Regions from separate parts of the Homo sapiens genome. Here all the other regions are linked to region 2. A link means that fine-mapping ties the variant in region 2 to the plasma level of a protein whose gene starts in the linked region. Region 2 holds a variant in brackets. A gene starts in each other region. All regions are shown on their forward strands. Region 1 holds the start of PYDC1 (pyrin domain containing 1). Region 2 overlaps FLG (filaggrin). Region 3 holds the start of WFDC12 (WAP four-disulfide core domain 12).

Evidence for each region. PIP is the posterior inclusion probability: the model's chance that the variant is causal. The UK Biobank Pharma Proteomics Project read protein levels with antibody pairs (Olink). The fine-mapping took linkage between variants from a reference panel, not from the people measured, so its PIPs are less certain.
Region 1: PYDC1 starts here. The variant in region 2 is fine-mapped to the plasma level of the PYDC1 protein (UK Biobank, PIP above 0.99).
Region 3: it holds the start of WFDC12, and the variant in region 2 is fine-mapped to the plasma level of the WFDC12 protein (UK Biobank, PIP above 0.99).

The regions. Positions count from the first base shown.
Region 1 is chr16:31,212,192-31,220,369 of GRCh38, forward strand. PYDC1 (pyrin domain containing 1) reads right to left here and starts at 4,944. Exons shown (of 2, transcript NM_152901.4): 1 at 4,552-4,944; 2 at 3,771-3,966. The coding sequence starts at 4,837. The coding sequence ends at 4,568. TRIM72 (tripartite motif containing 72) reads left to right here and starts at 1,928. Exons shown (of 7, transcript NM_001008274.4): 1 at 1,928-2,106; 2 at 2,541-2,937; 3 at 6,904-6,999; 4 at 7,098-7,328. The coding sequence starts at 2,548. RefSeq lists enhancers at 1,419-2,334, 2,335-3,249, 4,165-5,079.
Region 2 is chr1:152,301,387-152,309,564 of GRCh38, forward strand. FLG (filaggrin) reads right to left here. Exons shown (of 3, transcript NM_002016.2): 3 at 779-8,178. The coding sequence ends at 1,314. All of the region lies in intron 3 of CCDST (cervical cancer associated DHX9 suppressive transcript), which reads left to right. Among named protein-coding and RNA genes, the nearest start is that of FLG, 20 kb to the right of the region's middle. The variant G/T (reference allele first, on the strand shown) is at 3,760.
Region 3 is chr20:45,121,069-45,129,246 of GRCh38, forward strand. WFDC12 (WAP four-disulfide core domain 12) reads right to left here and starts at 3,397. Exons shown (of 3, transcript NM_080869.2): 1 at 3,301-3,397; 2 at 3,039-3,197; 3 at 2,357-2,875. The coding sequence starts at 3,379. The coding sequence ends at 2,778.

The DNA of each region.
Region 1 (8,178 bases), not on the chromosome of region 2:
GTGATAAAAGAGTCAGAGTGATTAATGGGGTCATAGCAGATAGGGCTTTGTAAGCCACAGTTAGCACTTTGGTTTTTATTCTAGATGAAATTTCTTTCTTTTCTTTTTTTTAATATTTATTGTTTTTTTTGAGACGGAGTTTTGCTCTTGTTGCCCATGCTGGAGTGCAATGGCATGATCTTGGCTCACTGCAACCTCTGCTTCCCAGGTTCAAGCAATCCTCCCATCTCAGCCTCCCGAGCAGCTGGGACTACAGGTGTTCTTCACCATGCCCAGCTATTTTTTTTGAGTTGGAGTTTCGCTCTTGTCACCCAGGCTGGAGTCCAGTGGTGCGATCTCGGTTCACTGCAACCTCTGCCTCCCGGGTTCAAGCGATTCTCCTGCCTCAGCCTCCCAAGTAGCTGGGATTACAGGTACCTGCCACCACACCCGGCTGAGTTTTGTATGTTTCATAGAGACGAAGTTTAACCATGTTGGCCAGGCTGGTCTCAAACTCCTGACCTCAAGTGATCCACCCGCCTGGGCCCCCCAAAGTGCTGGGATTACAGGTGTGAGCCATTGTGCCTGGCCCTTGCCAACTTTTTAATGGGGTTGTTTTCTGCTTGTTGAAATGTTTAGTTTCTTTATATATTCTGGATAGTAGATCTTTGTTGGATGCATAGTTTGTGAATATTTTCTTCCATTCTTTTTTTTTGAGACGGAGTCTCACTCTGTACCCCAGGCTGGAGTGCAGTGGCGCGATCTCGGCTCACTGCAAGCTCCGTCTCCCGGGTTCACACCATTCTCCTGCCTCAGCCTCCTGAGTAGCTGGGATTACAGGTGCCCGCCACTGCGCCCGGCTAATTTTTTGTATTTTTAGTAGAGACGGGGTTTCACTGTGGTCTCGATCTCCTGACCTCATGATCCACCCGCCTTGGCCTCCCAAGAGTGCTGGGATTACAGGCGTGAGCCACCGCGCCTGGCCTTTCTTCCATTCTTCAGTTGTCTGTCTGTTGATAGTTGCTTTTGCTTTTGCTGTGCAGAAGCTCTTTAGTTTAATGAGGTCCCACTTAACAATTTTTGTTTTTGTTGCTTTTGAGGACTTAGTCAAGAATTCTTTACCAAGGCTGATATCCAGAATAGTATTTCTCCTGCGGTTTCTTCTATGATTTTTATGGTTTGAAGTCTTACATTTAAATCTTTAACCCATCTTGAGTTAATTTTTTTTATATGGTGAAAGGTAGGGGTCCAGTTTCATTCTCTTGCATAAGGCTAGCCAGTTATCCCAGCGCCACTTAAATGAAATTTCAGCTGAGATTTGAAAGATACACATACAGGAACCAGGGCAGAATTGAGTTCTGGGCTGCAGGCTCTGGATTCAGTTCATTCATTTGTTCAATGTCTCTCTATCATTCATTCTCCAAGCATTTAGAGAGGCCTACTTTGTCCCAGGCTTGTCCTGGGTGTACTAGAGAGACCAAAGTGGAAAAGACCCTCCCCTCAGCTCTGGAGGAAGAAAACATTTCAGGGTGGGGTGAGGTCCTGCCCTCCTGCAGGTGGGGTAATCCTGCCAGGGTGACCTTGGTCAGCCATAAACTTGGGGAATGAGTGGGTGACAGGCTGGGGAGGGGCTGCCAGCAAGGAGGAAGGAGCTGGAGAGTGTGGAGGTGGGAGTGGGGGGAGAAAGGGCAGACCCCCTTCAATTTTCTGTCTTTTCTGTGGTGTGAAAGGCCCTGGCTCCCCGCTGGCTCTGAGCTCTGACTCCAGGCAGGCCGGGGAGAGAACAGTGGATGGGCCAAGACAGGTGGCCCTGTCATGTGATGTGTGCCCAGGGACTACTCAGCCCTCACTTTTAGAACGGTTTCCGGAAGTGATGGGAGGGATTGGGCAGGGCAGCTAAATATAGTCCTGGGGCCATGGCTCAGTCTGGGAGGGTCTTCCGCTGAGCACTGTGTGCCCATCACGCGTGGTGTCCACTGCCAGCTGCCCCTGTGAGTCCCTGTCCTTGCTTGGAGCCTGCTGCTTGTCTCAGATCCTTGGACCCAGCCCTGACCCCAGTCCAGCTAAGCTCAACCCTGACCGGTCCTCCTTCGAGACTCTTTCAGCCTAAGATCTCCAACCAGACCTGTGAGTCCCGTGGGCTGGAGAGAGGGGGAGGGGAGGTCTGGGTATCTTGGTAAAGTGAGGGAGGGGAGTCTCGGAGTGGGGGCTCTGGAGAATTTGGGTCCGGGACTAAGGTCAGAGGCTGAGGCCTGGGGCTAAGGCGAGGGCAAGGACAGTGGGCTAGAATCTGGGCTTGTGTTCAGGAACTGGGGTTGACTGATAGGGCATATTTTTGGGGTTGGAGCTGAGAATTGCAGTGGAGGCTGCTTTTGGGCCTGAGACCGAGTTCCTCTTTCCCCTTGGCCGTCAGAGTCCCATCCAGTGTAGGATGTGAGGTCTTTACAGGCTGGGGCTTCTCCCTGCGGGGCGGCGGGCCCGGCCTGGGCTAGGGCTGGGCCAGGGCTGGGCCGGGAGCGCGGCGCCGCGGGGTCCCCCTAACCTACTCCTCCTCCACCCAGGCCCGCCATGTCGGCTGCGCCCGGCCTCCTGCACCAGGAGCTGTCCTGCCCGCTGTGCCTGCAGCTGTTCGACGCGCCCGTGACAGCCGAGTGCGGCCACAGTTTCTGCCGCGCCTGCCTAGGCCGCGTGGCCGGGGAGCCGGCGGCGGATGGCACCGTTCTCTGCCCCTGCTGCCAGGCCCCCACGCGGCCGCAGGCACTCAGCACCAACCTGCAGCTGGCGCGCCTGGTGGAGGGGCTGGCCCAGGTGCCGCAGGGCCACTGCGAGGAGCACCTGGACCCGCTGAGCATCTACTGCGAGCAGGACCGCGCGCTGGTGTGCGGAGTGTGCGCCTCACTCGGCTCGCACCGCGGTCATCGCCTCCTGCCTGCCGCCGAGGCCCACGCACGCCTCAAGGTGCGGGATCCGCGCGCATCGTGGTCGGAGGGGCTGTTCGGTGGCACGGGGCCGATGGGGAGGTCGCTGCAGTGATTTGGATTCTGAGTCTCTAGAGAGGCTCACGAGCTCCTGGAGTTGCGGGGGGCGGGGGCGGGGCGAAGCAGCCAGGAAAGAGGGTCTGAGGAGCTTAAGGCGGGGCTGGCAGAGGAAAGCCGCGCAGGGATGGAGCCTGGCGATAAGGGCGCTGAGCAAACGTAGGTTTCCCGGCCTTAGTCCCTAGAGGAAACTGGAGATGGGCGGGCGGAGCCCCAGGGCGGGTCTGATGGGCCGGGCGGAGCCAGGCGGAGCAGGGACTGACCAGCCCCTGCGGCCCACGCTCGCATTCCTGCACCCGGTGGGCCGTTCGGGCTGGCTCCCTGCTCGGCGCTGGCCCACTTTGGACTGGAGGCGCGGCGTTCGGGACCGAGCCAGGCGGCCGGGGCAGGGTTGTCCCCTTGTGCTCAGCGGAGGCCCACGCACCCCTGAAGCTGCGGAACTTGGGCTGGCCTGACGGTCCCCAGGCGGGGCCTCACCAGAAGGGAGACTGTAAGGGCTAGGCAGCCGGGATCTGCACTTATGTGTGCGGGCCCAGGGTGGCACCGAGAGCCCCGTCCAGGATGTTTTTCTGGGTGGAGCTGGAAGTCCCGAAAGCCTTGGGAGCCCACACGCAGTTGTGCGCGTCCCGAAGTACCCAGCAGAGACACCCAGACAGAGGCAAATAGAGACGAACGCACACTGGCTGGTGCGTGTCATCCGTGTGGCAAAAGCACACACGTATAGCTACCGGCGGGCACGTGTGCGCGCAGCCCCAGTAAAGTCTGCCATGAATATTTATTGGGCAGTGGAAGAATAAATGACAGGTGCAGGGGCTGGAGGAGGCGGGGTCTGGAGGCACGGAGGCGTCCTTGGTCCCCGAGGTGGAGACACTGCTGTTGTCTTACGCGACTGGTGCGCGCGTGGGGCTGGCTTCACAGGCGTTGCATTACTCCTTTTGCCTTGACCCGCCTCCTAGAAGGGGTAGACCACCGTCCTTTCGTTGGTATTCGAGGCCCCCAGACTTCCCAGGGACCCAGCCTCTCAGTCCTGCCTGGCCCAGTTCAGCCCAGTCCTAGCTGGTGGTCTCCTAGCTCAGGGCAGGAGCCTCCTCCCGGGACCCCTCCCATCCCAGCACACCTGTGCTTAAGACCCCAACCTCAGGGCAACCCGCTCGGATCCCCTTCCATGCTGTGGAAGCTTTGTTCTTTTGCTCTTTGCAATAAATCTTGCTGCCGCTAAAAAAAAAACAAAAAACAAACAAACAAAAAAAACCCAACCTCGCCCAACCTTGCCCGTCTTTATCTGCGAAGAAAGCACAGAACCCATGAAACGGAACAGGGCCCAGGCAGCCCAGGAGCCTGGAAGGGGGCAGTGGGGCGAGATGCAGCCCACCAGGGTTCGCGGCAGCCCAGCCCTTCGCCCCCGGGAGGGGCTGGCCGGAGGTCTGAGGGAGGACCCCAGGAGGGACCCTGAAGGAGGGGAACAGGAAGGCTCTGGGCGGGACCTGACGCGTGGGTCCTTGGCGAGGAAGCGGGGTTGGGTCCCGAGATCACGTACCAGCTCAGAGTGGCCCTCACGCAGCCCGCTGCAGCCGTGCGGCCTCCTCCAACATGCGCATGTCGCGCAGCACGGCCACGACGAGCTCGGCTGCGTAGTCCTCGTAGTAGGAGGCGACCAGCTTGTCGGTGAGGTCCACGATATCTAGCTGCCCGAGCGCGCCCCGCGGGATGCGCTCAAAGCCCTCGCGCAGCGGCACCGTCCCCAGCTTCATCTTGAACTTCTTGAGCTCCTCCGGTGTCAGGTTCTCCAGCACCTTCAGGATGGCCTCGCGCTTCGTTCCCATGGCTCAGCCCTGCGCCTCTGAGCCTCCGAGGGCCTGGAGCCATCAGGTCCTACCTTTCCTGCAGCAGGTGGAGCTGCCGCCCCCGGGGATGTCCCGGGAAGGAGACTGATCTGGCAGCTCCTATTCAACCCTGTGGCTCCTGCTGGGAGGGGACTCTGCAAACACCGCCTAGAGGGTCCCCCAGTTTCCCCTGGGAGAGTGGGGGCGCCAAATTGTTGAGGTGGGGATTGCTGTTCCCAATCTGCAGAGGAGGAAACAGGTTGCAAGTCATTGAGGCAGGAATGGAACTGATTCCATGGTCAGGCACCTCCCAGCAAAGAAGTGGCTTTGTAGCCTGGCATGGTTGCTCATGCTTGTAGTGCCAGCTACTCGGGAGGCTGAAGCAAAAGGATTGCTTGAGCCTAGGAGTTCGAGTTGTGATTCTGCCACTGCACTCCAGCCTAGGCAATCCTGTCTCCAAAAAAAAAAAAAAAAAAAAAAAAAATGGCTTTGGCAGGAGTATTGGGAGCTCTCCTATATTTGCATATTTGCATTTGAGGTCTTGGGTAAGATCTAGACCACAGAATGGTTGGTCTGTGCAGGGGACATTTTTTTTTTTTTTTTTGAAATGCAGTCTTGCTCTGTCGCCCAGGCTAGAGTGCAGTGGCACATTCTTGGCTCACTGCAACCTCCGCCTCCCTGGTTCAAGTGATTCTCCTGCCTCAGCCTCCCGAGTAGCTGGGATTACAGGCACTTGCCACAGCGCCCAGGTAATTTTTGTATTTTTAGTAGAAATGGGGTTTCACTATCTTGGTCTGGCTGGCCTTGAACTCCTGACCTCGTGATCCACCCGCCCTGGCCTCCCAAAGTGCTGGGATTACAGGTGTGAGCCACCACGCCCGGCCAGCAGGGGACATTTTAATTAAATTTCCTGCCCCCTACTCCAAGCCCATGTGTGTACAGGCAGGCTGACTTGGTGGTCAGGCTGACAGGCTGACTGAGGCTGATGTTCTGCTTTTAAGTAAGAGAGGAAGCCCAGGAGTAGGGGTAGGTTGCCTTTCTTCTTTCATATATCCTTCATGTACCCCCTGAGGTCTGTTGTGTGCCAAGCTCTGTGCCTGCCTGTCTGGTGGGAGAGACCAAACCACACTGATGTTTGTCATCCTCGCAAAGACCTGTGCTATGGGGCTGACTGCTGAGCAGAGGGGATCAGGGAAGGCAAGGCCAGGGAGGGGTCAACAAAACAGACAAGGGGCTGGGGGTGTGGCGGTTCATGCCTGTAATCCCAGCATGCTGGGAGGCTGAGGTGGGAGGATTGCTTGAGGCCAGGAGTTGGAGACCAGTCTGGGCAATATAGTGAGATTGTCTCTACAAAAATATTTTAAAAAATCATGGCCAGGAGTGGTGGCTCATGTCTAATCCCAGCACTTCGGGAGGCTGACGTGGGTGGATCACCTGAGGTCAGAAGTTTGAGACCAGCCTGGCCAACATGGTGAAACCCTGTCTCTACTAAAAATACCAAAATTAGCCAGGCGTGGTGGTGCACCAAAATTAGTCCCAGCTACTTGGGAGGCTGAGGCAGGAGAATCGCTTGAACCCAGGAGGTGGAGGTTGCAGTGAGCTGAGATTGTGCCACTGCACTGCATCCTGGGTGACAGAGCGAGACTCCAACTCAAAAAAAAAAAAATCAGAAAATTTGCTGGGCACGGTGGTGTGTGCCTATAGTTCCAGCTACTTGGGAGACTGAAGTGAGAGGGTCAATTAAGCCTGGGAAGTTGAAGCTGTAGTTAACTGTGATCATGCCACTGCTCCAGCCAGGGCAACAGTGTGAGACCCTGTCTCAAAACAAAACACCAAAATAAATAAATAAAAAACCGCACCAAAATAGACAAGGGGCAGGGGAAGCATTCGGACCTCAGGAGTAGCACTGGCTGGGGCTGGGAGGCATGTAAGTGGGTTTGGGGATGGGAAGATGGCTGGAGGAGGAGCTGGCATTGAGGTTGAGCCACAGAGGGCAGGTTTAGGATGGGAGGTGTGGGTTTTGGGTGGGTGGCATCCCCATCACTTCTCCATGCCTCGACCCCCAGACACAGCTGCCACAGCAGAAACTGCAGCTGCAGGAGGCATGCATGCGCAAGGAGAAGAGTGTGGCTGTGCTGGAGCATCAGCTGGTGGAGGTGGAGGTGAGGACTTCACAGGGCCATGTCTGAGGGCTGGGGGCCAGGCTAGGGGTCTCCAGCCAAGAGTCTTTATCCCTTCAATCACTGCCCCATCCCTGCAGGAGACAGTGCGTCAGTTCCGGGGGGCCGTGGGGGAGCAGCTGGGCAAGATGCGGGTGTTCCTGGCTGCACTGGAGGGCTCCTTGGACCGCGAGGCAGAGCGTGTACGGGGTGAGGCAGGGGTCGCCTTGCGCCGGGAGCTGGGGAGCCTGAACTCTTACCTGGAGCAGCTGCGGCAGATGGAGAAGGTCCTGGAGGAGGTGGCGGACAAGCCGCAGACTGAGTTCCTCATGGTGAGCACTGGGTGACCCCCCTCCCTGCCTCAGCCCCCTGCTCAGGGCCCAGAGACCTCATCCCATTGTCAGATAGGCCCAGAGAGGGGCAGGGATAAGCCAGCAGCACACAGCCGGGAGGGGCAGGCCTCAGGACTGCTATATGGTTGTTTAGGTTGAGCACTGCATAAGGACATTGTATTAAGTGAGCACTATTCATATCATAGACATTGTAGGTTTATATATTTATTAGGACACTCTTATTTTTATTTTTTATTTTTTGAGATGGAGTCTTACTCTGTCACCCAGGCTGGAGTGCAGTGGCAGGATCTTGGCTCACTGCAAGCTCCGCCTCCTGGGTTCATGCTATTCTCCTGCCTCAGCCTCCCGAGTAGCTGGGACTACAGGCACCCGCCACCACGCCTGGCTAATTTTTTCTATTTTTCAGTAGAGACAGGGTTTCACCGTGTTAGCCAGGATGGTCTTGATCTCCTGACCTTGTGATCCACCTGCCTTAGCCTCCCAAAGTGCTGGGATTACAGGCGTGAGCCACCGCGCCTGGTCTTTTTTTTAAAGGCAGGGTCTCACTCTGTCACCCAGGCTGGAGTGCAGTGGCATGATCATAGCTCACTGCAGCCTTGTAGGCTCAAGCAATCCTCCAATCTCAGCCTCCCATAGCTGGGACTACAGGCGCTTACCTGGCTAGTTTTTGTATTTTTAGTAGAGATGGGGGTCTCATTATGTTGCCCAGACTGGTCTCAAATGCCTGGGCTCAAACAATCTGCCTGCCTTGGCCTCCCAAAGTGCTGGGATTACAGGCATGAGTCACCGCACCCGGCCTATTAGGACAGTTTTCTAACAGGTGGAATCA
Region 2 (8,178 bases):
CTTTATCTTGGTTTACTCAAGTGTAAGTTCAATAAAGGCAGCTTTTTGGAAGTGCTTTTATAAAACCACTAAAAGCAGATTTGGAGACTTGAGATCTAAGTGCTACTTTGGTGTGGATTATTTGTGTAATAGACTCATCTGCAAAATGTGATCGCTGACCTACATATCACTTCTAGTCTGATATTATGGGAATGAAAATTTGGGTAGGATTCTTACAGAAGCATATTCCTTCTACTGGTAGAACTTCATTCATATTTTTACTATTCTTTTTTCAGCATTTTCATCTACTTGCTTAAATTACAAAGATACAAATATTTTCCTTCCAGGTCAGGAGGACACTTCTTTTTAATTCTTTTCCCTTTTTCAGGATATATCAGCACAACTTCTCTGCTCCAACTAGTCTACATTGCAAAGCATCTCCTAGTGTCTTTGGAAGAAGGATCTATGGTCAGTAATTCCTGTTTCGTGATCTGCCTTTGACATGGCTTAATCACCACCTAAGTTGATAATTCCATATTAATAATAGTGATATTCATGATTGAGCAGAGCATGTTTTTTTTTTTCCTGCATGTGATTGTGGGACAGTGATTATGTTGGAGAAAAATATAGGCCTTGATTAAATTTTGTCTTTCATTATTAATTACTTGTTATTTTGAATGTAATGTATCTGCTTTATGGTCATATAGCTTTCCAATGATATAGAAGACATCTAATTCTGGCCATGGGGAAGTATGTAATTTGTGTTTATGACAAATAAGAATACAAGAGACAAACAGTATTATATGATGAATAGTTTATTTTTAATTTAGATGCAGCTTACTATAATATTAATTATGTCCAAGATGATTTTTTGAATACAGAATACTAGAATTCCAATAGAAGGATAATAGAGAAAGATGTGCTAGCCCTGATGTTGATATAGCCACTTTGGTATACAGAACTGTTTTATATTTTTGGCTCCTTCGATATTTCTGAAAAAGATTAATTTAGAAATTTGGGGAGTGTCTAAAACTTAAACTTTCAAAAACATAAAACATTACTTGACCCAGAATCTCCTAAAATACTCCAGCTAGTTTTCTAAAGTTAGCTCTCCATGATATTGATTTCTTCCATTTAATATTTCTGAAATATAGCGTTTAAAGATCATTACACAATAAAAATAAGCTACCACCAAACTAATGAAATACTATAGCATATTTTAAACAGATTGACAGGAAAAGATAACTTCCCTGAAAGTATTATGAAGTTTCTTGATTGAAAGTGAACTTGCTTCATTCTTCTATTCTTGGATTAATTCCTTTGCCATTAATTTCTTACTCATAGTAATAGTATCTCTGTGACTGACTAAATCCCAGTTGTTTCGATATATCACTAGAATGGCCACATAAACCTGGGTCCTTATTAATATACGTTGCATAATACCTTGGATGATCTTTACCAAACGCACTTGCTTTACAGATATCAGATCTTTCCTTGAAAACAACAGGATTGGAATTGTAACTAACACTTCCGTGCTGAGAGTGTCTAAACCCGGATTCACCATAATCATAATCTGCACTACCATAGCTGCCATGTCTCCAAACTAAACCTGATTGACCTTTTTGCCTTTCAGTGCCCTCAGATTGATAATGATAAGAACTAGAACTGTGAGGACTGCCACGTGACTGTATTCCTGAGTGATACGCAGAATCTTGTGAAAGACTACTAAAGTGACCATGTTCCTTAGCGGTACTAGAGTCTGACTGTACAGGTGAAGACTGTACATGACTGGCTGTATCGCGGTGAGAGGATCCGGGGTGTCTGGAGCCATCTCTTGACTGCTCCCGAGAAGATCCATGATGGTTTCTGGAAGCAGACTCAGATCGCCTCTCAGAGTCCTCTGGGTATGCCTCACTGTCACTGTCCTGGCTAACACTGGATCCCTGGCGCCTGCTTCTCCTGGACCCCGCTGATTCACCCTGGCCGGACTGTGAGTGTCTAGAGCTGTCAGCCTGAGTGGAAGCTTCATGGTGACGCGACCCTGAGTGCCTGGAGCCGTCTCCTGACTGTTCCTCATTACGTGTTTCTCTGCTTGCACTTCTGGATCCTGACTGCCCATGGGAGGCATCAGACCTTCCCTGGGATGTGGTGTGGCTGTGATGGGACCCTGAGTGTCCAGACCTATCTACCGATTGCTCGTGGTAGGATCCCTGTCTTCCTCCTCTCCTTGACCCCGGGTGTCCACGAATGGTGTCCTGACCCTCTTGGGACGCTGAGTGCCTGGAGCTGTCTCGTGCCTGCTCGTGGCGGGATCCTTGTCTTCCTCCAGTACTGGGCCCAGCCCGTCCATGGGCAGACTCAGACTGTTCATGAGTGCTCACCTGGTAGAGGAAAGACCCTGAACGTCCAGACCTTCCTGCTGACCGGCCACGTGTGGACTCTTGGTGGCTCTGCTGATGGGGCCCAGCCTGTCCGTGGGCTGACACTGACTGTGTGTCTGAGTCTTCTGAATGTCCCTCACTGTCACTGGCCTGACTACCACTGGACCCTCGGTGTCCACTGTCTCTGACTGCAGATGAAGCTTGTCCGTGCCCAATGCCTGAGTGTCTGGAGCTGTCTGCTGACTGCTGGTGGTGGGATCCATGTCTCTCTCCTGCACTTGATCTTGCCTGTTCATGGGATGATGCAGCCTGTCCACCAGAGGAATTCTCTGCATGATGAGTGCCTGATTGTCTGGAGCTCTCTGCAGAGTGCCCGTGACCGGCTCTGTCTTCGTGATGGGACGTGGGGTGTCTGGAGCCATCTCTTGACTGCTCCTGAGCAGATCCACGATGGTTTCTGGAAGCAGACCCAGACCACCTCTCAGAGTCTTCTGAGTGTCCCTGACTGTCACTGTCCTGGCTAACACTGGATCCCTGGTTCCTGCTTGTCCTGGGCCCCGCTGATTGTCCCTGGCCGGACTGTGAGTGTCTAGAGCTGTCCGCCTGAGTGGAAGCTTCATGGTGATGCGACCATGAGTGCCTGGAGCCATCTCCTGATTGTTCGTCATTACGAGTTTGTCTGCTGGCACTTCTGGATCCTGACTGCCCACGGGAGGCATCAGACCTTCCCTGGGATGTGGTGTGGCTGTGATGGGACCCTGAGTGTCCAGACCTATCTACCGATTGCTCGTAGTGGGATCCCTGCCTTCCTCTTCTGCTTGACCCCGGGTGTCCACGAATGGTGTCCTGACCCTCTTGGGACGCTGAGTGCCTGGAGCTGTCTCGTGCCTGCTCGTGGTGGGATCCTTGTCTTCGTCCAGTGCTGGTCCTGGTCCGCCCATGGGCAGACTCAGACTGTTCATGAGTGCTCACCTGGTAGAGGAAAGACCCTGAACGTCCAGACCTTCCCCCTGACCGGTCACGTGCGGACTCTTGGTGGCTCTGCTGATGGGGCCCAGCCTGTCCATGGCCTGACACTGACTGTGTGTCTGACTCTTCTGAATGTCCCTCACTATCACTGGCCTGACTACCACTGGACCCCCAGTGTCTACTGTCTCTGACTGCAGATGAAGCTTGTCCACGCGGAATGCCTGAGTGTCTGGAGCTGTCTGCTGACTGCTGGTGGCGGGATCCGTGTCTCTCTCCTGGACTTGATCTTGCCTGTTCATGGGATGATGCAGCCTGTCCACCAGAGGAAGTCTCTGCGTGACGAGTGCCTGATTGTCTGGAGCGGTCTGCAGAGTGCCCGTGACCGGCTCTGTCTTCGTGATGGGACCTGGGGTGTCTGGAGCCGTGCCTT[G/T]ACTGCTCCTGAACAGATCCACGATGGTTTCTGGAAGCAGACCCAGACCACCTCTCAGAGTCTTCTGAATGTCCCTCACTGTCACTGTCCTGGCTCACACTGGATCCCTGGCGCCTGCTTCTCCTGGACCCCTCTGATTGTCCCTGGACTGCCTGTGAGTGTCTAGAGATGTCGGCATGAGTGGAAGCTTCATGGTGACGTGACACTGAGTGCCTGGAGCTGTCTCCTGATTGTTCCTCATTACGTGTTGTTCTGCTTGCACTTCTGGATCCTGACTGCCCACGGGAGGCATCAGACCTTCCCTGGGATGTGGTGTGGCTGTGATGGGACCCTGAGTGTCCAGAGCTATCTACCGAATGCTCGTGGTGGTACCCCTGCCTTCCTCCTCTGCTTGACCCCGGGTGTCCACGAATGGTGTCCTGACCGTATTGGGATGCTGAGTGCCTGGAGCTGTCTTGTGCCTGCTCATGGCGGGATCCTTGTCTTCCTCTAGTGCTGGGCCCCGTCCATCCATGGGAGGACTCAGACTGTTCATGAGTGCTCACCTGGTAGAGGAAAGATCCTGAATGTCCAGACGTTTCCCCTGACCGGCCACGTGCGGACTCTTGGTGGCTCTGCTGATGGGACCCAGCCTGTCCGTGGGCTGACACTGACTGTGTGTCTGAGTCTTCTGAATGTCCCTCATTGTCACTGGCCTGACTACCACTGTACCCTCGGTGTCCACTGTCTCTGACTGCAGATGAAGCTTGTCCGTGCCCAATGCCTGAGTGTCTGGAGCTGTCTGCTGACTGCTGGTGGTGGGATCCATGTCTTTCTCCTGCACTTGATCTTGCCTGTTCATGGGATGATGCAGCCTGTCCACCAGAGGAAGTCTGTGTGTGACGAGTGCCTGATTGTCTGGAGCTGTCTGCAGAGTGCCCATGACCAGCTCTGTCTTCTTGATGGGACCTGGGGTGTCTGGAGCCATCTCTTAGCTGCTCCTGAGCAGATCCATGATGGTTTCTGGAAGCAGACCCAGACCACCTCTCAGAGTCTTCTGAATGTCCCTCACTGTCACTGTCCTGGCTCACACTGGATCCCTGGCGCCTGCTTCTCCTGGACCCCTCTGATTGTCCCTGGACTGCCTGTGAGTGTCTAGAGATGTCGGCATGAGTGGAAGCTTCATGGTGACGCGACCCTGAGTGCCTGGAGCCGTCTCCTGATTGTTCCTCATTACGTGTTGTTCTGCTTGCACTTCTGGATCCTGACTGCCCACGGGAGGCATCAGACCTTCCCTGGGATGTGGTGTGGCTGTGATGGGACCCTGAGTGTCCAGAGCTATCTACCGAATGCTCGTGGTGGTACCCCTGCCTTCCTCCTCTGCTTGACCCCGGGTGTCCACGAATGGTGTCCTGACCGTCTTGGGATGCTGAGTGCCTGGAGCTGTCTTGTGCCTGCTCATGGCGGGATCCTTGTCTTCCTCTAGTGCTGGGCCCCGTCCATCCATGGGAGGACTCAGACTGTTCATGAGTGCTCACCTGGTAGAGGAAAGATCCTGAATGTCCAGACGTTTCCCCTGACCGGCCACGTGCGGACTCTTGGTGGCTCTGCTGATGGGACCCAGCCTGTCCGTGGGCTGACACTGACTGTGTGTCTGAGTCTTCTGAATGTCCCTCATTGTCACTGGCCTGACTACCACTGTACCCTCGGTGTCCACTGTCTCTGACTGCAGATGAAGCTTGTCCGTGCCCAATGCCTGAGTGTCTGGAGCTGTCTGCTGACTGCTGGTGGTGGGATCCATGTCTTTCTCCTGCACTTGATCTTGCCTGTTCATGGGATGATGCAGCCTGTCCACCAGAGGAAGTCTGTGTGTGACGAGTGCCTGATTGTCTGGAGCTGTCTGCAGAGTGCCCATGACCAGCTCTGTCTTCTTGATGGGACCTGGGGTGTCTGGAGCCATCTCTTAGCTGCTCCTGAGCAGATCCATGATGGTTTCTGGAAGCAGACCCAGACCACCTCTCAGAGTCTTCTGAGTGTCCCTGACTGTCACTGTCCTGGCTAAAACTGGATCCCCAGTTCCTGCTTGTCCTGGGCCCCTCTGATTGTCCCTGGCCCACCTGCGAGTGTCCAGAGCTGTCGGCCCGAGAGGAAGCTTCATGGTGACGCGACCCTGAGTGCCTGGAGCCGTCTCCTGATTGTTCATCGTTACGAGTTTGTCTGCTTGCACTTCTGGATCCTGAGTGCCCATGGGAGGCATCAGACCTTCCCTGGGATGTGGTGTGGCTGTGATGAGACCCTGAGTGTCCAGATCTATCTACCAATTGCTCGTAGTGGGATCCCTGCCTTCCTCCACTGCTTGACCCCGGGTGTCCATGAATGGTGTCCTGACCCTCTTGGGACGTTGAGTGCCTGGAGCTGTCTCGTGCCTGCTTGTGGTGGGATCCTTGTCTTCCTCCAGTGCTGGTCCCGGTCCGTCCATGGGCGGACTCAGACTGTTCATGAGTGCTCACCTGGTAGAGGAAAGACCCTGAACGTCCAGACCTTCCTGCTGACCGGCCACGTGTGGACTCTTGGTGGCTCTGCTGATGGGGCCCAGCCTGTCCGTGGGCTGACACTGACTGTGTGTCTGAGTCTTCTGAATGTCCCTCACTGTCACTGGCCTGACTACCACTGGACCCTCGGTGTCCACTGTCTCTGACTGCAGATGAAGCTTGTCCGTGCCCAATGCCTGAGTGTCTGGAGCTGTCTGCTGACTGCTGGTGGTGGGATCCGTGTCTCTCTCCTGCACTTGATCTTGCCTGTTCATGGGATGATGCAGCCTGTCCACCAGAGGAATTCTCTGCATGATGAGTGCCTGATTGTCTGGAGCTCTCTGCAGAGTGCCCATGACCGGCTCTGTCTTCGTGATGGGACCTGGGGTGTCTGGAGCCATCTCTTGACTGCTCCTGAGCAGATCCATGATGGTTTCTGGACGCAGACCCAGACCGCCTCTCAGAATCTTCTGAGTGTCCCTCACTGTCACTGTCCTGGCTAACACTGGATCCCCGGGGCCTGCTTGTCCTGGGCCCTGATGATTGTCCCTGGCCCACCAGTGAGTGTCTAGAGCTGTCGGCCCAAGAGGAAGCTTCATGATGATGCGACCCTGAGTGCCTAGAGCCATCTCCTGATTGTTCCTTGTCATATGTTTTTCTGCTTGCACTTCTGGATCCTGACTGCCCACGGGAGGCATCAGACCTTCCCTGGGATGTGGTGTGGCTGTGATGAGACCCTGAGTGTCCAGACCTATCTACCGATTGCTCTTGGTGGGACCCCTGTCTTCCTCCTCTGCTTGGCCCCGGGTGTCCACGAATGGTGTCCTGACCCTCTTGGGATGCTGAGTGCCTGGAGCTGTCTTGTGCCTGATCATAATGGGATCCTTGTCTTCCTCCAGTGCTGGGCGCAGACTGTCCATGGGTGGACTCAGACTGTTCATGAGTGCTCACCTGGTAGAGGAAAGACCCTGAACGTCCAGAGCTTTCCCCTGACTGGCCACGTGCGGACTCTTTGTGGCTCTGCTGATGGGGCCCAGCTTTTCCCTGTGCTGACACTGACTGTGTGTCTGAGTCTTCTGAATGTCCCTCACTGTCACTGGCCTGACTACCACTGTACCCTCGGTGTCCACTGTCTCTGACTGCAGATGAAGCTTGTCCATGCCCAATGCCTGAGTGTCTGGAGCTGTCTGCTGACTGGAGCTGGTGGTGGGATCCATGTCTTTCTCCTGCACTTGATCTTGCCTGTTCATGGGATGACGCAGCCTGTCCACGAGAGGAAGACTCTGTGTGACGAGTGCCTGATTGTCTGGAGCTGTCTGCAGAGTGCCCGTGACCGGCTCTGTCTTCGTGATGGGACCCAGGGTGTCTGGAGCCATCTCTTGACTGCTCCCAAGCAGATCCAAGATGGTTTCTGGAAGCAGACCCAGACCACCTCTCAGAGTCTTCTGAGTGTCCCTGACTGTCACTGTCCTGGCTAACACTGGATCCCTGGTTCCTGCTTGTCCTGGGCCCTGATGATTGTCCCTGGCCCACCTGCGAGTGTCTAGAGCTGTCGGCCCGAGAGGAAGCTTCATGGTGACGCGACCCTGAGTGCCTGGAGCCGTCTCCTGATTGTTTCTCATTACGTGTTTGTCTGCTGACACTTCTGGATCCTGACTGCCCACGGGAGACATCAGACCTTTCCTGGGACGTGGTGTGGCTGTGATGAGACCCTGAGTGTCCAGAACTATCTACCGATTGCTCATAGTGGGATCCCTGCCTTCCTCCTCTGCTTGACCCTGGGTGTCCACGAATGGTGTCCTGACCCTCTTGGGACGCTGAGTGCCTGGAGCTGTCTCGTGCCTGCTCGTGGCGGGATCTTTGTCTTCCTCCAGTGCTGGGCCCTGTGCGTCCATGGGCGGACTCAGAC
Region 3 (8,178 bases), not on the chromosome of region 2:
CTCTCTAGCTATGAAATTCCTAAATGGCCTCTTCTTTCGATAAAAGACTGTTTCATCTACATTGAAAATCTGTTGTGTAGCGTAGCCACCTTCCTCAATTATCTTGTGTAGATCTTCTGGAGAACTTGCTGCAGCTTCTCCATCAGCACTTGCTGCTTTACTTTACACTTTTATGTTATGGAGATGGCTTCTTTCCTTAAATCTTGTGAACCGACCTCTGCTATCTTCAAACTTTTCTTACGCAGCTTCCTCACCTCTCAGCTTTCATAGAATTGAAAAAAGTTAGGGCCTTGCTCTGGATTAGGCTTTGGCTAAGGGGATGCTGTGGCTGTTTTGATTTTTTTATCCAAACCACTAACATTTTCTCCATATTAACAATAAGTCTGTTTCACTTACCATTTGTGTGTTTGCTGGAGTAGCTGTTTTAATTGCCTTCAATAACTTTTCCTTTGCATTCATAACTTGGCTAACTGGTAAAAGAGGCCTAGCTTTGGACCTTTCTTGGTTTTCAAACATGCCTTCCTCACTAAGGTTAATCATTTCTAGCTTTTTTTGATTTAAAGTGAGAGACATGACTCTTCTTTTCACTTAAACACTTAAAGGCCACTGTAAGATGATTAATTGGCCTCATTTCAGCATTGTTGTGTTCCAAGGGAGAGAAACAGAGAATGGCCGGTTGGGGGAGAAATCAGAACATATGTGACATTTATCGATCAAATTCACTGTCTTATGTGGGCACAGTTTATGGCACCCTGAGACAATTAGGAAAGTATCATCAAAGATCACTGATCACAGACCAACATAACAGATGTAATGATAATGAAAAAAATTGAAATATTGTGAATATTACCAAAATGTGACACAAAGACACATAGTGAGCACATGCTATAGGAAACATGCAGCCAATGTACTTGCTTGGTGCAGGGTTGCCACAAACCTTCAATTTGTAAAAAATGCAATGACTGCAAAGCACAATAAAACAAGGTATGCTTGTATTGTGGCTGTAATTGTTGTAGCTCCATAATATGTTTTAGTGACTGGTGGTATCCATTACCCTTCATTAGTCTACATTTTCAATTTTCCAGGTTACAAGTATTTTATTGTTCCATGTGAACCTAATGATCATTTTGTTAAGTTGCAAAAACAAACCCTTGTTTTTATCATAAAATGTTTTCAAAAATGCACAAAAGAACAGCAAATACTTTTATGGAGCCTACATACCCATCATCCAGATTCAACAATGAACCATTTTACAAGAATTCCTTCATGCATATCCCCACCCCTTTTTTGGCTGAAGTATTTTAAAGTAAATCCAACCGATCTTATACTTTACCTTTAAATACTTCAGTGTGCATCTCTAAAAACTAAGGACACTTTCTCACATAATGACAATCCTACTGTTACACCTAAGAAAATTAACTGCAGTTTCTTAACATCATCTAATATTCTATTTGCATCTTGTTTTTCTTATTGTCTCAAAAGTGACTCTATGGTTGTTGGTGCACATATTGCATTGGCTGTAATGTATCTGAAGTTTCTTTTAATCTAGAACAATCTCTCCAACTCTTTTTTATTCTCCTTTCCTCCCTCCTTCTTCTTCTTCATGCTATTGACTTGTTGAACAAAACAGACAAATTGTTCTTTAGAATGTCCCATGTTGCTTCCCTGTGATGTCTTTCATCTTCTTTGTCCTTCACATTTCCCATAGATGAATGCTAGCTGTAGAGGCTTGGTGAGGTTCATGCTCAACTGTCTTGGCAGGAGCCCTTCTTGAATGATGCTGTGTGTTTTGTGTTGCATCACCTCAGGAGGAACGGAGGTCCGCTTTACCCATTTTTAGCATTGTGGAGACAGATTAATGTGTTTTCGGTGTGTACCTGAATCCTCAAGTTGTAAACTTGTGTTTTCCCTCTTACAAACTGTAAATATACCACAGGGTGATGAAATGGCACCCTGTAAATATTCAGAAGCCATGGATAATCATTGCCAGAATCAATTATTTCATTAGGGTTTGCAAAACCCAGTGGGTTTTAATTTTAATTATATTTCAGGTATAAATTATGCTGACCAAGGTGAACACTTTGAGGAGGCTTCCTGCTTGGGGAAGAGCATATCTTTTAAAAAACATTTATTTATTTATTCTGTAGAAAAGTTTAGTCTATTTATCCAGATCTTTTAAAATGTCATTTAATAAAGTTTTAGGGTTTCCTTTCAGAAAATTTCTGTACATCTCTAGATTTATTTGTAGGTATTTTATATTTTATTCACTTTGATAATGTTGAATAGGATTTTTTTTTTTTACTATTAGGTTGTCTTAGCAGGTTTGGGCTGCTATAACAAATTACCATAGACTGGGTGGATTATAAACAGCAAATATTTATTTCTTACAGTTCTAGAGGCTGGGAAGTCCAAGATCAAGGCACCAGCAGATTCAGCATCTGGTGAGGACCAGTTTCTCTTCTCTGACAGTGCCTTCTAGCTGTGATCACACATTGCAGAAGGGCAAGGCAGCTCTTTGGGGTCTCTTATAAGGGCACTGGTTTCATTCATGAGGGGTCCATTCATGAGCATTAGGGAGGAGCACCAGGTAGAGAGGGAAAGTACCGTCCCTGGGGTCTGGACTTTTTGTGACTCTTCCCTCTTTTTGGGGAAAAGGACTTCAAGCTCAGGTTTTCTTTGGTGGGGTTGGGTATTGCTTCTTCCATATTCCAAGTCTCAGGACCCTCAGGGGCAGGTGCCAAGTGAGAGTGACCCCCAGAGGTAGAAAGGACCCAGCATCATTTCTGAGGACACCTGGTAGAGGAGGAGCCTGGACACTTGGCCTCCCATCCTGGCTCAGGGTATGGCCTTGACACATCTTCATCCTTGTTTCCTCCTTTGGACAATGGAGATGTTCAGACTAGGTGGTCTCTGAGGGCCCTGCCAGCTTTAGCCATCCCTCCCCACACCAGCTAAAGGGACTAATTCCTCCGAACTTTCATGGGTCAGATAGAGGCAGGGAAGGGACAGCCCCAGCCCTGGGAGGCAGGTCTCCTTACCTTCTTCCAGTTCCTTCACAGGAATCACACACTTGAAGCCACAGTGCAGGTAACAACACTTCCTTTCCCCCAGACAGTCCTGGTCTGTGTGACACTGGGGAGGATCGGACTTGAAGCAGCGTACGTTGTCAGCTGGGCAAACCCCTGCTTTCTCTATACCTAGTGGAGGAAGCCACAAGGTGATATGAGAACTCCAGCCCCAGAGGGCCCCTCAGGACCTCTCCCCAGCCCAGCCCCACCCAGCTCCACCATGTCTGCTCACCCTCTTTAACTCCTTCCACAGCCACCAGGGTCACAAGAACGAGAGACACCATGAGGACCAAGAAGCTGCTGGACCCCATGTTGCCAGGCAGGTGCTTGGCTGGGAGCTGGGCTGAGCCTGGCTTTATAGTGTTCCTGCTGGGCATGCCAGTGGGTGGAGCTGAAGGCTCAAAATGGCAAGGGAGGCTGCACTTCCCAGCTCTATTTGGAAATGGCCCCTTCTGAGGAGGGACTTGGGGCTTTCCCTAAGGCTCTGCACTGGAATAGATGAAGAAATCCAAGAGCGACCCTCGTTCTTCACACGAGGAGAAGAAATGGACACGTGATTGACCATTAGGCGCCACCAGGGCCAAACTATCTTATGGAAGGAGGAAAAGAAGCACAGAAAGGGCATGAAATTACTCAAGTTCACACACGAGGCAGTGGCAGGGCCAGACTTCCTCAACTCCACCGTGTTCTCTATCAGTCCCTCTTCATGCCTGATTCACCTGGGACCAAAATCTTCCCTCCTTCCTGTGCTGCCCCGGACTTGTTCTCAGTTCTCACCTCACCCCAAGGAAGAATCTGAATGGCAGTGCTTAAAATGTCTGTCCTGAACATTCACTCTCAGCCTTGCGCTCCAGCACCGTGTGCTCCTGCCCCCCGCCAATCTCATGTGGCCTGGAGGAAAGCAGATTTTGGACCTGTCACCAGCTGTGTGACTTTGAAAGCAGCTTCACCTTTCTAAGCCTCCGTTTCCTCATTCATACAATGAGCATAATAATTATACTGTATCATCTTCATAGGATTTGTTTTCCCTCCTCTGCCCCTGCATCCCCCAAATTCCTGGATTTGGAAGAAGACATGGACGTGTGTGCGTGTGTGTGTGTGTGTGTGTGTGTGTGTGTGTGTGACCAGGCTTTTGGGGTCCTTTCTTTGAATGAGTACTAAAGGGAGGAAAATCCTTCCTGTTGGAAAAGTTGCAGATATAAGCCCAGAAACTCCAGAAATTTGGTCCTGGCCCTGGTGAGAGAGAAATTCTGAGAAGATAAATCTAAGATGCTGATAAAAAGAGATGAGAGATGGACAGGGAGTAATTTAGAGGATATCTAGTCCTTCACTAAACTTTTTCCTGAGATCAGCCCCACTCATACCCAGGGTTATGTTACCACCCAATACATTCACCTTTCTGCCTAAGCTGGTCTGAATTGGATTTCTGTCATTTACTAACAGGACCCCTGAGTAATGCAAAGATTTGGGTTTGGGGTGTTCCACATCCTGAAGTGTGGAAGGGACTGAGTTGGGGTTAAGTGGAGGCAGGGAGGATACCTCCATTCCTGGAAGTGAGCCTACTCCTTATTAGGTGGTGAATCTTTGGTTACAATCTCACCAGTCATATCACTGGACTCAGATCATTTGGATACCAGGGATGGAATCTGGGAAGTTCATAAACAAATACTAGAATGTTGGAATGTATTGGCTATTTCCTCCTCCACCTTTTTATTATGAACTTTTTAAACATACAGAAAAATTGAAATAACAGAACAATGATACTTGTATACCTACAACTGGATTTAACAATTATTAATAGTTTGGGATATTTTAGAATACCTATAGCTACATTTGTTGAAATATTTGAAATGAAATTGAATACATTATGTTCCTATTTCCTAAATACATCAGCATGCAAATTCTAAGAATAAGGATATTCTTCAATATAATCACAAAGCCATTATCATATCTAAGATAATTAATAGTTTCTGCATGTCATCTCATAGCCAGTTCATATTTGTTTCTCCGGTTCTCCCCAAAATGTCATTTGTAATTGACTGTTGATGATACTTCTTTAAAAAAAGTATTGTAAAATAAATCCTACATATGAAAGAATGTAATCAACATTCTATACCTTTTGAAAAAGAATAATAAACACCTATGAACCTATCAATTTAGAATAGGACATTACCATCCCTACTTCAGAGGTAACCACTATCTTGAACTTTCTGTTAATCATCCTCATGTTTTCCTTTAAAGTTTTGCTCTCTTGCTATGGCTTGCTTAGTGATACGTGTTGTTTAATTTCGTGTAAGCGTAATTATGGCCTAAGTATTCTTTTGTATTTTGCATGCTTTGCTCAACACCGTGTTTTTTTAAAAAATTGTGGTAAGAAATATATACTATAAGACATGACCTCTTAACATATTTTTAAGTGCATACTAACAGTATTGTTAATTGTGGGCACAGTGTCATACAGTAGGTCTCTAGAACTTTTTCATCTTGCATGACTGAAACCCACTGAATAGCAACTCCCTATTCCCCCCACCCCCAGACCCTTGGAACCACCATTCTGTTTTCTGCTTCTATAAGTGACTACTTTAGACACTTCATAAAAGTGGAATTATGCCATATTTGTCCTTTTGTGACTGGCTTATTTTGCTTAGCATAATGTCCTTGAGGTTCACCCATGTTGTAGCATGAGATAGACTTTTCTTCTTTTTTATGGCTGAATAATATTCCATGGTATGCATATATATGTACATGTATATAATCTTTTTCCTTCCCTCATTTATCTGTCAATGGGTCAATGCACATTTAGGTTTCCATTTCTTGGCTATTGTGAATATTGCAGCAATGAACTTGCAGGTGCAAATATCTCTTTGGGATCCTGATTTAAATTCTTTTGGATAAATACCCAGAAGGGGGATTGCTGGATCATGTGATAGCTCTATTTTTAATTTTTTGAAGAACTTCCATACTGTTTTCCGTAGTGGCTATACTCCTTTAAATTCTCACTGACAGTGCACAAGGGTTCCAAATTCTCCACATTCTCACCGGTACTTGTTTTCTTTTTCTTTTCTTTTTAAAATAAAAGCCATCCTAACAGGTATGAGGTGATCTTATGGTTTGATTTTCATTTTCCTGATGATTAGACATGTTGAGTATCTTTTCACATACCTGTTGGCCATTTGTATATCTTCTTTGGAGAAATGTCTGTTTAAGTCTTATTCACTTTTAATTGGGTCTTTATATTTATATGTGTGTGTATATATATATATATATGCATATGTACACACACATATATATAATGAAAAAGAAAAGAAATAAGTATTAGAATGGGAGACGAGAAAAGCCATTGTTTGCAAATGATGCAATAATAAAAACACAAAAGAAACTACAGATACATCATGAGTTAGACAATTTTTCAAGATTAGCTGACACAAAAATCAATATATAAAAGTCAGCTGCTTTCTATACACTAGAAATATTGGTTAGAAAAATGTAATACGTTAAAAGCAATAACATGTAAAATATTTAGTAATAAAGGCAACCTGTGAGATGGGAAAAATATTTGCAAACTACCTACCAGATAAGGGGTTAATTTTCAAAATATATAAAGAACTGCAACTCAATAGCAAAAATATGTTTACATATATATATACATATATACATAGCAAAAATATGTTTATATATGTATATATATAAATACATTTAGGCTTACATTTAGGTTTCCTAGAAACCTAGACTGTCTAGGAAGCAAGCCCCATAAGGAACTTCTCATATTCATATTATAAGAAGGTAAAATTGCAGGGGACAATGTTCCTGTTTTGTAGTAGTAAACTACCTTCTCAAAAGGTGGTTATTTTGTCCCCAGGGGACTTTGGCAATGTCTGGAGACATATTTGATTGTCACAACTGGGACAGATGTGCTTCTCACATCCAGTGTCTAGAGGCTGAGGTTGCTGCTAAATATCTAACAATGCACAAGACAGCTTTTCACAACAAACAATGATCTGTCTCCAAGTGCCAATAGTATTGATGTTGAGAAACGCTGCTGTCCTGCCTCACTGACTAATAGCTGTGCATGGCCTCAGAACACCTCAATGTAGGCTGAAGCGAGTAATGATGGGAGTGTCTGCTGGGAGTATCCCATGCTTAGGAGTGCTGATCCTTGGCTCACTGGTTTCACCCAGTAAAGGCATTCCTTAGCCCATGCCATGTGACCTTGTGGAATTCATCCCATGTTCTGCTGAATCAGGTTAATAAAGTTCCCTTTTAATTCTAGTTAGCTAAGAGTTTTTCTCATGAAAGGATGTTGAATTTTTATCAAATGCCTTTTCTTCATCAATTGAAATAAATATATGGATTGTCTCTTCAATCTGTTATTTTGTGAATTACATTAACCAGATTTCACATTCATTGTCTTTTTTGGGCATCATTTATTTATGTGCTTCAAGAAAGTGGAAAGCCTTGAACCAAAATGGCGGAGTCTAAGACAGGGAATGAAAGGGAAGATATATTTCTCATAAACGTGGAATATATATTCCTGAAAATCATTAGGTTACAGAGTTTTGCTCACTACAAATAATAGGGCTTCTGGAAAAAATAGAGTTGAAGTAGAACATTCAATATTTGTGCAGTCTCATAAGTAATACATCAAACAAACAGAACCCACACCCAATAAAAACATGACCACAGTGTTAAACATCTTCAGTTCCTAATAAAGAAATTATGTAGTAAATGTAGCACTTTACTTTGACAAAAGATGGGGAGTTTGCTTGGTAAGTGGGTATGGTGAAATACTGTGGCTTTTGAGGTATGTACAAAAGGTGGAATGAAGGACATCATCATTCTTGGGACTAAATGTTGTTATACTGGAGGGTCATTGTCGTCAATCTTTTACTTCTGTACTGGCTTAAAACAGCAATCCGCTTCGTTGATTTGCCAGTTCCTCCCTTTTGTAAGGAAGCTGTATAACTCTAAATGAAACTGGATAACTGCAAAGTTCTATGCTGATGCTCTTGACATTAAAATCTTGATCTTTGGCTGGGCGTGGTGGCTCACGCCTGTACTCCCAGAACTTTGGGAGGCCAAGCCGGGCGGATCACTTGAGGTCAGGAGTTCA